Linked DNA regions of Homo sapiens: region 1 is linked to region 2. The links come from fine-mapping of genetic effects on gene expression. A gene starts in region 2. The other region holds a variant in brackets. All regions are shown on one strand. Distances are from middle to middle.

What was found.
Region 1: its variant is fine-mapped to the expression of BTBD2 in visceral fat (GTEx, PIP above 0.99). The same link has a PIP of 0.9 or more in atrial appendage and uterus.

Annotation. Positions count from the first base shown.
Region 1 is chr19:1,984,452-1,989,814 of GRCh38, reverse strand. BTBD2 (BTB domain containing 2) reads left to right here. Exons shown (of 9, transcript NM_017797.4): 6 at 2,123-2,315; 7 at 2,562-2,649; 8 at 2,839-2,985; 9 at 3,166-4,367. The coding sequence ends at 3,327. LOC124904610 (a long non-coding RNA gene) reads right to left here and starts at 2,123. Exons shown (of 2, transcript XR_007067086.1): 1 at 1,321-2,123; 2 at 1-857. The variant C/T (reference allele first, on the strand shown) is at 3,294.
Region 2 is chr19:2,013,128-2,018,490 of GRCh38, reverse strand. BTBD2 (BTB domain containing 2) reads left to right here and starts at 2,777. Exons shown (of 9, transcript NM_017797.4): 1 at 2,777-3,194. The coding sequence starts at 2,788. LOC107985278 (a long non-coding RNA gene) reads left to right here. Exons shown (of 4, transcript XR_001753845.2): 3 at 1,191-1,308; 4 at 1,397-2,146. RefSeq lists silencers at 2,971-3,120, 3,131-3,180.

The DNA.
Region 1 (5,363 bases), 29 kb after region 2:
GTCCCCACCGTGCACACTGCCAGACCCCGCCTCTCGTGTCTGTCCAGCTGTTTTGGTGGCATCTTCCCAGGAGGGAAGGGAGTCCCCGTCTCGCGCCCTTGTGCTACCTGCTGGTGCAGGTACCAGTGTCTGTGACGAGCTCAGGAGGGCTCTGACATGGCCGGGGTGGCTGTCATGCGCCCGAGTGGGCCTTGGGGTCCCCTGCTGCAGGGCCTGGGTTCCAGGGTGACGTGAAGGGGCAGCGCTAACGATGCCTCCTGCCCTCGTGGCTGCTCACTGCCTGACGCCATCCAGCTCTGGAGCAAAACAGGCCTGGAACTTTCCAGAAGGGGCTGGGACAGAGCCCTGGGGCTGGTGCACACTCGCCGTCTGGCCTTCCCCAGGTCCACGCGGCCCCCGCTCTTGCTTAGCTGAAGGTCGCCAGATTTAGCAAGAGGGTCTCTGTCGCCCAGGCTGAGTGCGGTGGTACAATCACAGCTCACTGCAGCCTCGACCTCCTGGGCTCAAGTGATCCTCCTGCTTCAGACTCCGGAGTAGCTGGGATCACAGGTGCCACCACCACACAAGGCTTATATTTGTATTTTTTTGTGGGGACAGGGTCTTGCTATGTCACCTGGGCTGGTCATGAACTGGGCTCCAGCCATCCTCCCATCTCGGCCTCACAAAGTGCTGGGATTATGGACATGGGCCACCGAGCCTGGCTAGATACATACTTCTTAAAAATACAACTGTTGATCAGCTGGGTGTGGTGGCTCATGCCTGTAATCCCAGCTACCCGGGAGGCTGAGGCAGGAGAATCACTTGAACCCAGGAGGTGGAGGTTGTGATGAGCCGAGATCGCGCCACTGCACTCCAGCCTGGGCAACAAGAGTGAAACTCCATTTAAAATAAAAAAATATATACAATTGTTGGCCAGGCTGGGTCACTCACTCCTGTAATCCCAGCACTTTGGGAGGCCCAAGATGGGGGGAATCACTTGAGGTCAGGAGTTTGAGACCAGCCTGACCAACAGGGTGAAACCCCGTCTCTACTAAAAATACAAGATTAGCTGGGCATGGTGGCGCATGCCTGTAAACCCAGCTATGCTGGAGGCTGAGGCAGGAGAATTGCTTGAACCCTGGAGACGGATGTTGCGGTGAGCCGAGATTACGCCACTGCACTCTAGCCTGGGGGACAAGAGCGAAACTCCGTCCTGCACTCTAGCCTGGGGGACAAGAGCGAAACTCCGTCTCAAAAAAAAAAAAAATTGTTAACATTGTTTATTGAGTTTTGATACTCAGTCTTCCTGATTCACTTAACCCATAATGGTCTGTTTCTCACCAGTTATTAAACTGTGTCTGCACTGGGCTGGCTTGCAGCTGAGCGATGCGGAGTTGAGCCCACCTTGGTTGATGAGTGATTAGGTCTCAGGCAGGCAGGGCTGCTCTCATTAGAGCAGAGGGTGCTGTGTCCTGGCACTCCTGGGGGTGGATGGTGGACCCCCAATTCTGCCCCTCCTGGCCTCCCCTCCCTACCCAGAGCCCCTTCACATCCCATGCACAGTCCCTCTGCCTGTGACATCTCTGCACCGGGATTAAGAGCCTGGCTCTTGGAGTCTGCCTGGGGTCCGCTAGCCATCACCCCTGGGGGTGTAAGCGCTTGAGAAGGTGTCTGCCTAGGGCCCACCGTGGAGAGGAACCCCCAGACTGCTTCTAGAAGCCAGGGCTGCAGCCTGGGGGGTACAGGCCTAGCAGGGAGCCACAGTGACCCCTCCCAGCCAATGGCCCTGAGAGAACAGGCAGTGGAGCCCCCCGCCCCCACCCACAGTGAAGTGACGGGTGGTCCCTACAGTGGGGCCAGACCCTGAGACATCACCCCTGAGTGAGTGCATCTGTCAGACCCTGAGGCATCGCCCCTGAGTGAGCGTATCTGTCGGCCTCTGGTCTGTGCCCTGGGACCTCTCCCTAAAAGCCCAGGCAGCAGGGGCCATGGCTGGTGGCTAGTCCCCCGGGGAGGGGCTGCCCAGGTCCCTGCACCTTGAAAGTCCGACGCAGACATCTTAGGGGGAAGGAGCGTGTCCTCCCAGGCACTCGGGATCCTGGGGTGCAGCCCGGCCCTCCCCCACACCCTCCCTGTGCTGCAGGTCCCGCACAGTCGGGCATCCTGGTGGACCGCGAGGTGGTCAGCCTCTTCCTGCACTTCACCGTCAACCCCAAGCCACGAGTGGAGTTCATTGACCGGCCCCGCTGCTGCCTGCGTGGGAAGGAGTGCAGCATCAACCGCTTCCAGCAGGTGGAGAGTCGCTGGGGCTACAGCGGGACCAGTGACCGCATCAGGTGGGGCTTGGGGTGCAGGCGGGGGGGTCCGGACATGGGGGTGGAGGACTCGGGGATGACGGAGATGGGGGGCCGGGCATGGGGGTGGAGAACTCAGGGATGATGAAGACGGCGGGGGGGCCGCCGGGCATGGGGGTGGAGGACTCAGGGACGATGGAGGGGACCGGGCATGGGGGTGGGCTCGCCCCAGCTCACCTTAGGCTATCCCTGGGTATCCACGCTGCTGCCTGTCATCTGCCACGGCAGGTTCTCAGTCAACAAGCGCATCTTCGTGGTGGGATTTGGGCTGTATGGATCCATCCACGGGCCCACCGACTACCAAGTGAACATCCAGGTACCAGCCCCAAGCCTCATCCCCAGGCCCCACTCAGGCCCATGTCCTCTCTCCACCTCCATGGAACCCTGGCTGAACCCCCGGCCCTGGTCCCTGTGCTGCCCCCACCCTGGGCAGGTGGGCTGGGCCTCGAGGGGTCCCCGTTGGCCCTCCCCAGGCCTGAGCCTCCCACTTCCCACCTCCCCGCAGATTATTCACACCGATAGCAACACCGTCTTGGGCCAGAACGACACGGGCTTCAGCTGCGACGGCTCAGCCAGCACCTTCCGCGTCATGTTCAAGGAGCCGGTGGAGGTGCTGCCCAACGTCAACTACACGGCCTGTGCCACGCTCAAGGTGCGCCGCCGGGGACAGGGGTCCCTCCGTGGGAGTCTCTGGCCCATCCTGAAGCCACCGGGGCACAGCACACACTCTCCAGAGGCAGCCACCCTGGCCCAGTCGGGGCCTTGCCCTGTCCACACCTGGGGCATCCCAGCCTGGTGGTCCTTGACCTCACTGTACCCCTATTCCCTACAGGGCCCAGACTCCCACTACGGCACCAAAGGCCTGCGCAAGGTGACACACGAGTCGCCCACCACGGGCGCCAAGACCTGCTTCACCTTTTGCTACGCGGCCGGGAACAACAATGGCACATCCGTGGAGGA[C/T]GGCCAGATCCCCGAGGTCATCTTCTACACCTAGGCTGCCCGACACCGACACCGCCCTCCCTCCGTGGGGATAGCCGCAGCCCCAGGCCATCATCTGCTGCTGGGGCCCCCCCACCACGCGGTGCCAGGCCCAGTGTCCCCCAGGCCGTCTGTCCACTCCATGCCACCTTTCTCAGCATCAGGACGGGGTTGCCCTGTGTTCACCACGAGTGTGGCTGCTGGATCAGGGCAGCCGGGGAGGTGGCCAGGCCAGTGGCCAGGCCCTGTGGAGACAATCCCTCAGGACTAGGGACAGGGCTGTGCCGGCCTGGGCCAGGGCCCACGGACCCGCAGCTCAGGGCGCCTGCCCACGTCGTCTGCCGGCGGTGCGCCGCGGGCGTCCCTCGCGTCTCTTCACTGCACATTGCAATGCATTTGCGATTCCCATTTCTCTGCTAGGAGCCAGCCTGGGTGGCGCTGCTCCCAGAGCCGTGGGTCCCAGACCTTGCGTTCCTTTTGTTCCTGTCCGTTTATCAGGACACGGGCCCCACCTGTCACGTGCCCGAGGCCACCCAAGCCCAGCCTGCGGGGCGTTCCCACTGCCTGGATGCCGGCTTGAGTTCTGCGCACGCAGGATTCAGTGTGGGGACGGCCCCTGCCGGATAGGCCTAGCCCTGGCCCAGGTGGTGAGCGGTTTGCAGTGTCCGTTCTCATCCACCTGATGGGCCCAGATAAAGGCCCCCGCTGTCCAGCCTCCCTGGACGGCCCTCGCGGTCCCTGCAGCCCAAGATGGGACTCAGACCCTGTGCCCCAGAGCTCCCCTGCCGCAGAATGGGGCCCCAGCCGGCCCCGACCGGGTCCAGGAGCACTGCTCGCCTGTACATACTGTTGCCCTAGCCCACCTGGTGCCGTGGGAGCCACCCCCAGGTGCTGGGGGCACAGCCCCTCCCCACTCCGGCCACGCCCCCACCCACCCCGCGTGTTTCTGCCCTGTGACTCCTGGAACCTGCGTCCTCCCCAAAGCCATGGGAGGGGTGTCCTCCTCAGACCATGCCCCCAGATGATTTTTTTAAATAAAGAAACAAATGCACCTGCCTTGAGCGCACACTGCTTTGCTCCCCTTCACTCTCTGCCCTGTCATCCGGGCTGCAGTGGGCGAGGGATGTCGTGCGCCGAGAGGGGCCCTGAACCCCGGGTCTGGTCGCCAGTGCTGCGAGACCCTCCTTAAGTACCCACAGGCCACACTGAAGCCCGGGAGGTCGAGACTGCAGTGAGCAGTGATGCACCACTGCCCTCCCCCCTGGGCAAGAGCAAGACCCTAACTAACTCAACACCTCCCCCCAAACCCAAATGCAATGGACGTGTGTGCCGATTTCCCCGTGGGGAGGCCCTGCTGGCTGCTGGGGGACCGTGGATGTGAGAGATGGAGAGAAAGCAGGGAGTGCCCAGTTGTGGCCTCAGTGGCCAGAGAAGTCAAGCCGTTGGCTGCTGCCTCAGGAGCACACGTGCAGGGCAAGACATCAAGAAACCCGGCAGCAAGGCCGCGTGGTGGCTCACACGTCATTACAGCACCTTGGGAGGCCGGGCGGGTGGATCACCTGAGGTCAGGAGTTCAGGACCAACCTGGCCGACATGGTGAAACCCCATCTCTACTAAAAACACAAAAATTAGCCAGGTATGGTGGCAGGCACCTGTAATCCCAGCTACTTGGGAGGCTGAGGCAGGCGAATCGCTTGAACCTGGGAGATGGAGGTTGCAGTGAGCCAAGATGGTGCCATTGCACTCCAGCCTGGGCGAGAAAGCAAGACTCCGTCTAAAAAAAAAAAAGCCAGCCGCAAACAGTTGCCAGGAGGCTGAAGGCTGAGCAGATCTCCACAGTGCGCAGTGCTGGGAGCAGGCAATGGAGATGGAGGCTGGCGGGGTAGGGGGCCTTGTCGAACACCCTGGGGGCCGGGCGTGCTGGCTCACACCTGCAATCCCAGCACTTTGGCAGGCTGAGGCAGAACTGCTAGGGGCCAGGAGTTTGAGACCAGCCTGGGCAACACAGCAAGACCCCATCTCTAAAAAAATACATATTAAAAGGAAACACCT
Region 2 (5,363 bases):
TGGTGGCAGGCGCCTGTAGTCCCAGCTACTCGGGGGGCTGAGGCAGGAGAATGGCATGAACCTGGAAGGCAGAGCTTACAGTGAGCCGAGATTGCACCACTGCACTCTGGCCTGGGTGGCAGAACGAGACTCCATCTCAAAAAAAAAAAAAAAAAAAAAAAAAAAAAAAATCGTGAACATCTCAGCATTCCGTAAAGTTCACCCTTTCCTCAGACAACCTACCATTTTGTTAATTTCTGTCACCATGGCAGGTATGCCTGTTCTGCACCTTCATCTAGAAGGGACTGCACAGATGTCCTCTTTAGGATTTGGCTGGAAAGATGTCACTTTGCAAATGTATGAGATGAGAGATAAGAAAGTTGACATTTAGAGGCCGGCTGTGATGGCTCCCGCCTGTAATCCCAGCACTTGGGGAGGCCAAGGCAGGCGGATCACCTGAGGTCGGGAGTTCGAGACCAGCCTGACCAACATGGAGAAACCCCGTCTCTACTAAAAATACAAAATTAGCCGGGCGTGGTGGTGCATGTAATCCCAGCTACTCAGGAGGCTGAGGCAGGAGAATCGCTTGAATCCGGGAGGCGGAGGTTGTGGTGAGCTGAGATCGTGCCACTGCACTCCAGCCTGGGCGACAGAGCAAGACTGTCTCAAAAAAAAAAAAAAAAAAAAAAAAAAATATATATATATATATATATATGTATATACATACACACACACACATATAAAATTAGCCAGGCATGGTGGCAGGCGCCTGTAGTTCCAGCTACTCGGGAGGCTGAGGCAGGAGAATGGCGTGAATCTGGGAGGCGGAGCTTACAGTGAGCCAAGATCGCGCCACTGCACTCCAGCCTGGGCGACAGAACGAGACTGTCTCAAAAACAAAACAAACAAACAAAAAAAAATTAGCCTTAGCCAGGCGTGGTGGCGGGTACCTGTAACCCCAGCTACTCAGGAGGCTGAGGCGGGAGAATTGCTTGAACCAGGAGGCTGAGATTGCAGTGAGCCAAGATCGCCATCACTGCACCCCAGCCTGGGCAATAGAGGGAGACTCTAAAAAGAAAAAAGAAAAAAGAAAAAAAAATTGTAACTACCTCAACCACCCACTCTGGAGAACTGAAAATAGCATTATCACTTGGGTTTTTTTAATACCCTATTTTCTTTTTCTTCTTTGTTTTTTTTTTTTTTCGAGACAGGATCTTGCTCTGTTGCCCAGGCTGGAGGGCAGTGGTGGAGTCATAGCTCATCAAAAGCTCAACCTTCCAGGCTCAAGTGATGCTTCCGTCTCAGCCTTCTGAGTAGCTGGGACAACAGGTGCGTACCACCACGCCTAGTTTTTTTTTTGTTTTGTTTTGTTTGTTTGTTTGTTTGTTTGAGACGGAGTTTTGTTCTTGTTGTTCAGGCTGGAGTGCAATGGCGCGGTCTCGGCTCACTGCAACCTCCGCCTCCCAGGTTCAAGTGATTCTCCTGCCTCAGCCTCCCGAGTAGCTGGGATTACAGGCACCCGCCACCAAGCCTGGCTAATTTTCGTATTTTTAGTAGAGATGGGGTTTCACCATGATGGGGTTTCACCAGGATGGTCTCGATCTCCCGACCTGGTGATCCGCCCGCCTCGGCCTCCCAAAGTGCTGGGATTACAGACGTGAGCCACCGCGCCTGGCTAATTTTTGTATTTTTTGTAGAGACAGGGTTTTGCCATGTTGCCCAGGCTGGTCTCCAACTCTTGACCTTAGGTGATGCACCCCCCGCCTTGGCCTCCTGAAGTGCTGGGATTACAGGCGTGAGCCACTGCGCCCGACCTGGTTCCTCAATCTTTGTGGCATTTGTCTACCTTGACATTATGTATGTAGTAAGCGTTTTGGGGGAGTCCCAGCTCCGTCCACACTGACCACCCCCCACACCTGGCCTGGAGAGGGTGCTGGGCGTCTGCTGAGTGTCAGTGCACGTGGCCTGCATCCTGCTCGCTCATCCGCAGCTTCCCGGCCTCAGGCTATGTCTCTGTACAGCGGAGCCTGCGCCACGGAGCAGGCCCGCCACCTGGGTCCGGGGTCTGGGGTCTGGAGTTTGCGCTTGGTCTTTGGGTTGGGGGTTCCGGGTCTGAGGTATGGGATCTGGAATCCGGAGTCTGAAGTCTGGGGTTCAGAGTCTGGGATCTAGGATTCAAGGTCTGAGGCCTGGGATCCCGGACTGAGGTCTGTGCTCCAGGGTTTAGGATTCCCGGTCTGGAGTCTGGGGCCTGGTGCCTGGACCCCAAATTCTGGACCTCGGTCTGGAGTCTGGGCTTCAGGTCAGGATGCTTAGGGAGTGGAGCAAGAGGTCTTCCACCAGCTCCTCCCCTCTACAGGCCCCTCCTACTCTTCCCTCTCCTCCCCGTCCCCTCCCCTGCAACAGCCTCCCCCATTCACCTCCCTTCTCCCCTCCCTCCTCCCCTCCCACCTCCCCTCCTTTCCCCTCCCTCTCCTCCCCTCCCTCCTTCCCCCTCCTTTCCCCTCCCTCTCCTCCCCTCCCTCCTTCCCCCTCCTTTCCCCTCCCTCTCCTCCCCTCCCTCCTTCCCCCTCCTTTCCCCTCCCTCTCCTCCCCTCCCTCCTTCCCCCTCCTTTCCCCTCCCTCTCCTCCCCTCCCTCCTTCCCGCTTCCCCTCCCCTCCCTCCTCCCCTCCTTTCCCCTCCCTCCTCTTTTCCCCTCCCCTCCCTCCTCCCCCTCCTCCCCCTACTCTCCTCCTTTCCCCTCCCTCCTTCCCTCCTCCCCTCCCTCCTTCCCTCCTCCCCTCCCCCGCCCACGCCGCAGCCACAAAATGGCGGCGGGTGGGAGCGGCGGGCGTGCGTCGTGCCCGCCGGGGGTCGGGGTCGGCCCGGGCACGGGGGGCAGTCCCGGGCCCAGCGCCAACGCCGCCGCCACCCCGGCCCCCGGCAACGCGGCCGCCGCCGCCGCCGCCGCCGCCGCCGCCGCCGCCGCCCCTGGGCCGACGCCGCCCGCCCCGCCGGGCCCCGGGACAGACGCGCAGGCCGCGGGCGCGGAGCGGGCGGAGGAGGCGGCGGGCCCGGGGGCGGCGGCGCTGCAGCGCGAGGCCGCGTACAACTGGCAGGCCAGCAAGCCCACCGTGCAGGAGCGCTTCGCCTTCCTCTTCAACAACGAGGTGCTGTGCGACGTGCACTTCCTGGTGGGCAAGGGGCTCAGCTCGCAGCGCATCCCCGCGCACAGGTGGGCGCCCCGACCCCGCCAGCCCTGGCCCCGACCCACCCAGCCTGCTGCCCGGGCCCTGCACCTGAGGCCCTGCACCCCTCTGTCCCCGAGACCCCCGCACCCCTCCATCCCCGAGCCCTGCACCCCTCTGTCCCCGGGACCCCTGCACCCCTGCATCCTCAGGCTCCGAACCCAACTCGGCCTGCACCCCGGGGCCTGCACCTGAGGCCCTGCACCCCTCTGTCCCTGGGACCCCTGCACCCCTCCGGTCCTGAAACCGACCCGGCCTGCACCCCGGGGCCTGCACCCTTCCATCCCTAGACTCCACCCAGTTCCCTGGGCTCTGCACCCCTCTGTCCCTGCCTCTGCACCTCTCTGTCCCCAGACCCCACCAGGCCTGCACTCTGGGCCTCTGCACCCCTCCATCCCCAGGCCCCCCTGGATCCTCCACCTCTGGCTTGCGCCCCCAGCCTGTTCCCCGGGATCCCAGGCCCTGTACCCCTGGGACCCCTGCTCTCCTCCGTCCCTGGACCCACCCAGCCTGCACTCCGGTACCCTCCGTTCCTGGGACCCTCCAACTCGGCCTGCACTTGGAGCCCCTGGGCCCCTCCATCCTCAAACCCCACCCAGCCCGCACCCCAGAACCCTGAATACCCCATCCTCAGGGCCCTCCACCCCCCGCCTGCACCCTAGGACCCTCCATTCTTCCATCCCCAGGACGCTCCATCCCTGGACCTCACCCCTCCCTGCACCCCAGGTCCCCAGACACCTCTGCCCCCAGATCCCTGGGCCCCTCCACCTCCGGCTGGAACCCCTGCCTACACCCCAGGCCCCTCCATCCCTGGACCCCACCTGGCCTGCATCCCTGGGTCCCCTCCATGCCCTGGCCCTGCACCCCCACCCACCACCCCTGGGACTCCTGTGACCCTCCAACCCTGGGACGTGTACCCCTATCTGCTCCTCCATTCCCAGGACCCCAACCCACTGTTTCTAGGACCCATGACCCCACATGCCACACCCCTCCATCCCTATACCCGGGGATCCTCAGGACCCCTCCATCCCCAGGCCCTGCACCCTTGCCTGCCGCCCCTCTCCCCCTGGGACCCCTACTGGTGACCCCTCCGTCCCTGTACCCAGGGACTCTCCAGGACCCCTCCTTCCCCAGGTCCTTCACCCCTGCCCACTGCCCTTCCACTCTCTACTCCCGGGGCCCCCTGGGACCCCACTACACTCAAGTGTGTCACCCCTGCATCCCAGGATGGAGAGACTTCTCCGCTCTCACCTGAGACCCCCCGTCCCCAGTCCTCACCACCTCAGTCCGTAACCCCCAACCTATGACTCCTGAACTCCAGGACCCCTCCCTTCAGGGGTCGTGCTATTTCCTCCACCCCCACCCATGACCACAAGACCCCTCCCTCTTCCCCCACCATCCAGGGACCCTGCCACTCCCACCCGCACCCCTGTGCGCCAAGACCCCTAGGCCTTGCTCCCTGCGTCCTCCCTGCTGCCTCCAGACCCAGTGACCCCCACCGGAGACCCCCAGGCTCAGCACATGATCTGGATCAGAGACCTTCAAACCATGCTGCTCCCCTCCAGGGATACCCCCTGCCCGCCCTGCAGTCCAGATCATAGACTACCATCCACAGCCCCTCCAGCCCCGGACCCCCACCTCAGCCAGAGACCCCTGGGCCCTGCCACCTCCCACTTCAGTGACCACCCACCTCCAGCTCCGCCACTGCCAGGCTCTGGACCCTGGACTCTGCAGAAGGTTGTCTCCCCTGGGCCCTGCTACCCCCTGCACCCCATCCTATGATCCCCTGCCACCAGGCCACCACCCTAGACCCCTGCCCAGACTCCCATCTCCGGGCCCTTCCAACCCAGAGACCCCCAGCTCCGGGGTCCCTCCCTCCCCAGCCCCCAGCCCTCCTTTCTGGGAAAGAAGTGGGTTTGGCCCAGTATCTGTCTTTGCCAGTGTGCGGGGTACCGGCCCCAGGCCCCAGGTTCCCTCCACTCCCCGGTCCCTCTTACCCTGCCCCTCATTGGTCGGGGGCAGGGGCTGGGTTTTCTTGCTGCGGGCACTGGAGGGGGAGGGTCCTGCCCTCCCTTCTGACCTTCGGGTGCTTTTGTTAACGTGTTCTGGCTTCTTCCTGGGTGTTTATGGGCAGCTGGGTCTCCTTTCGTGGGGTC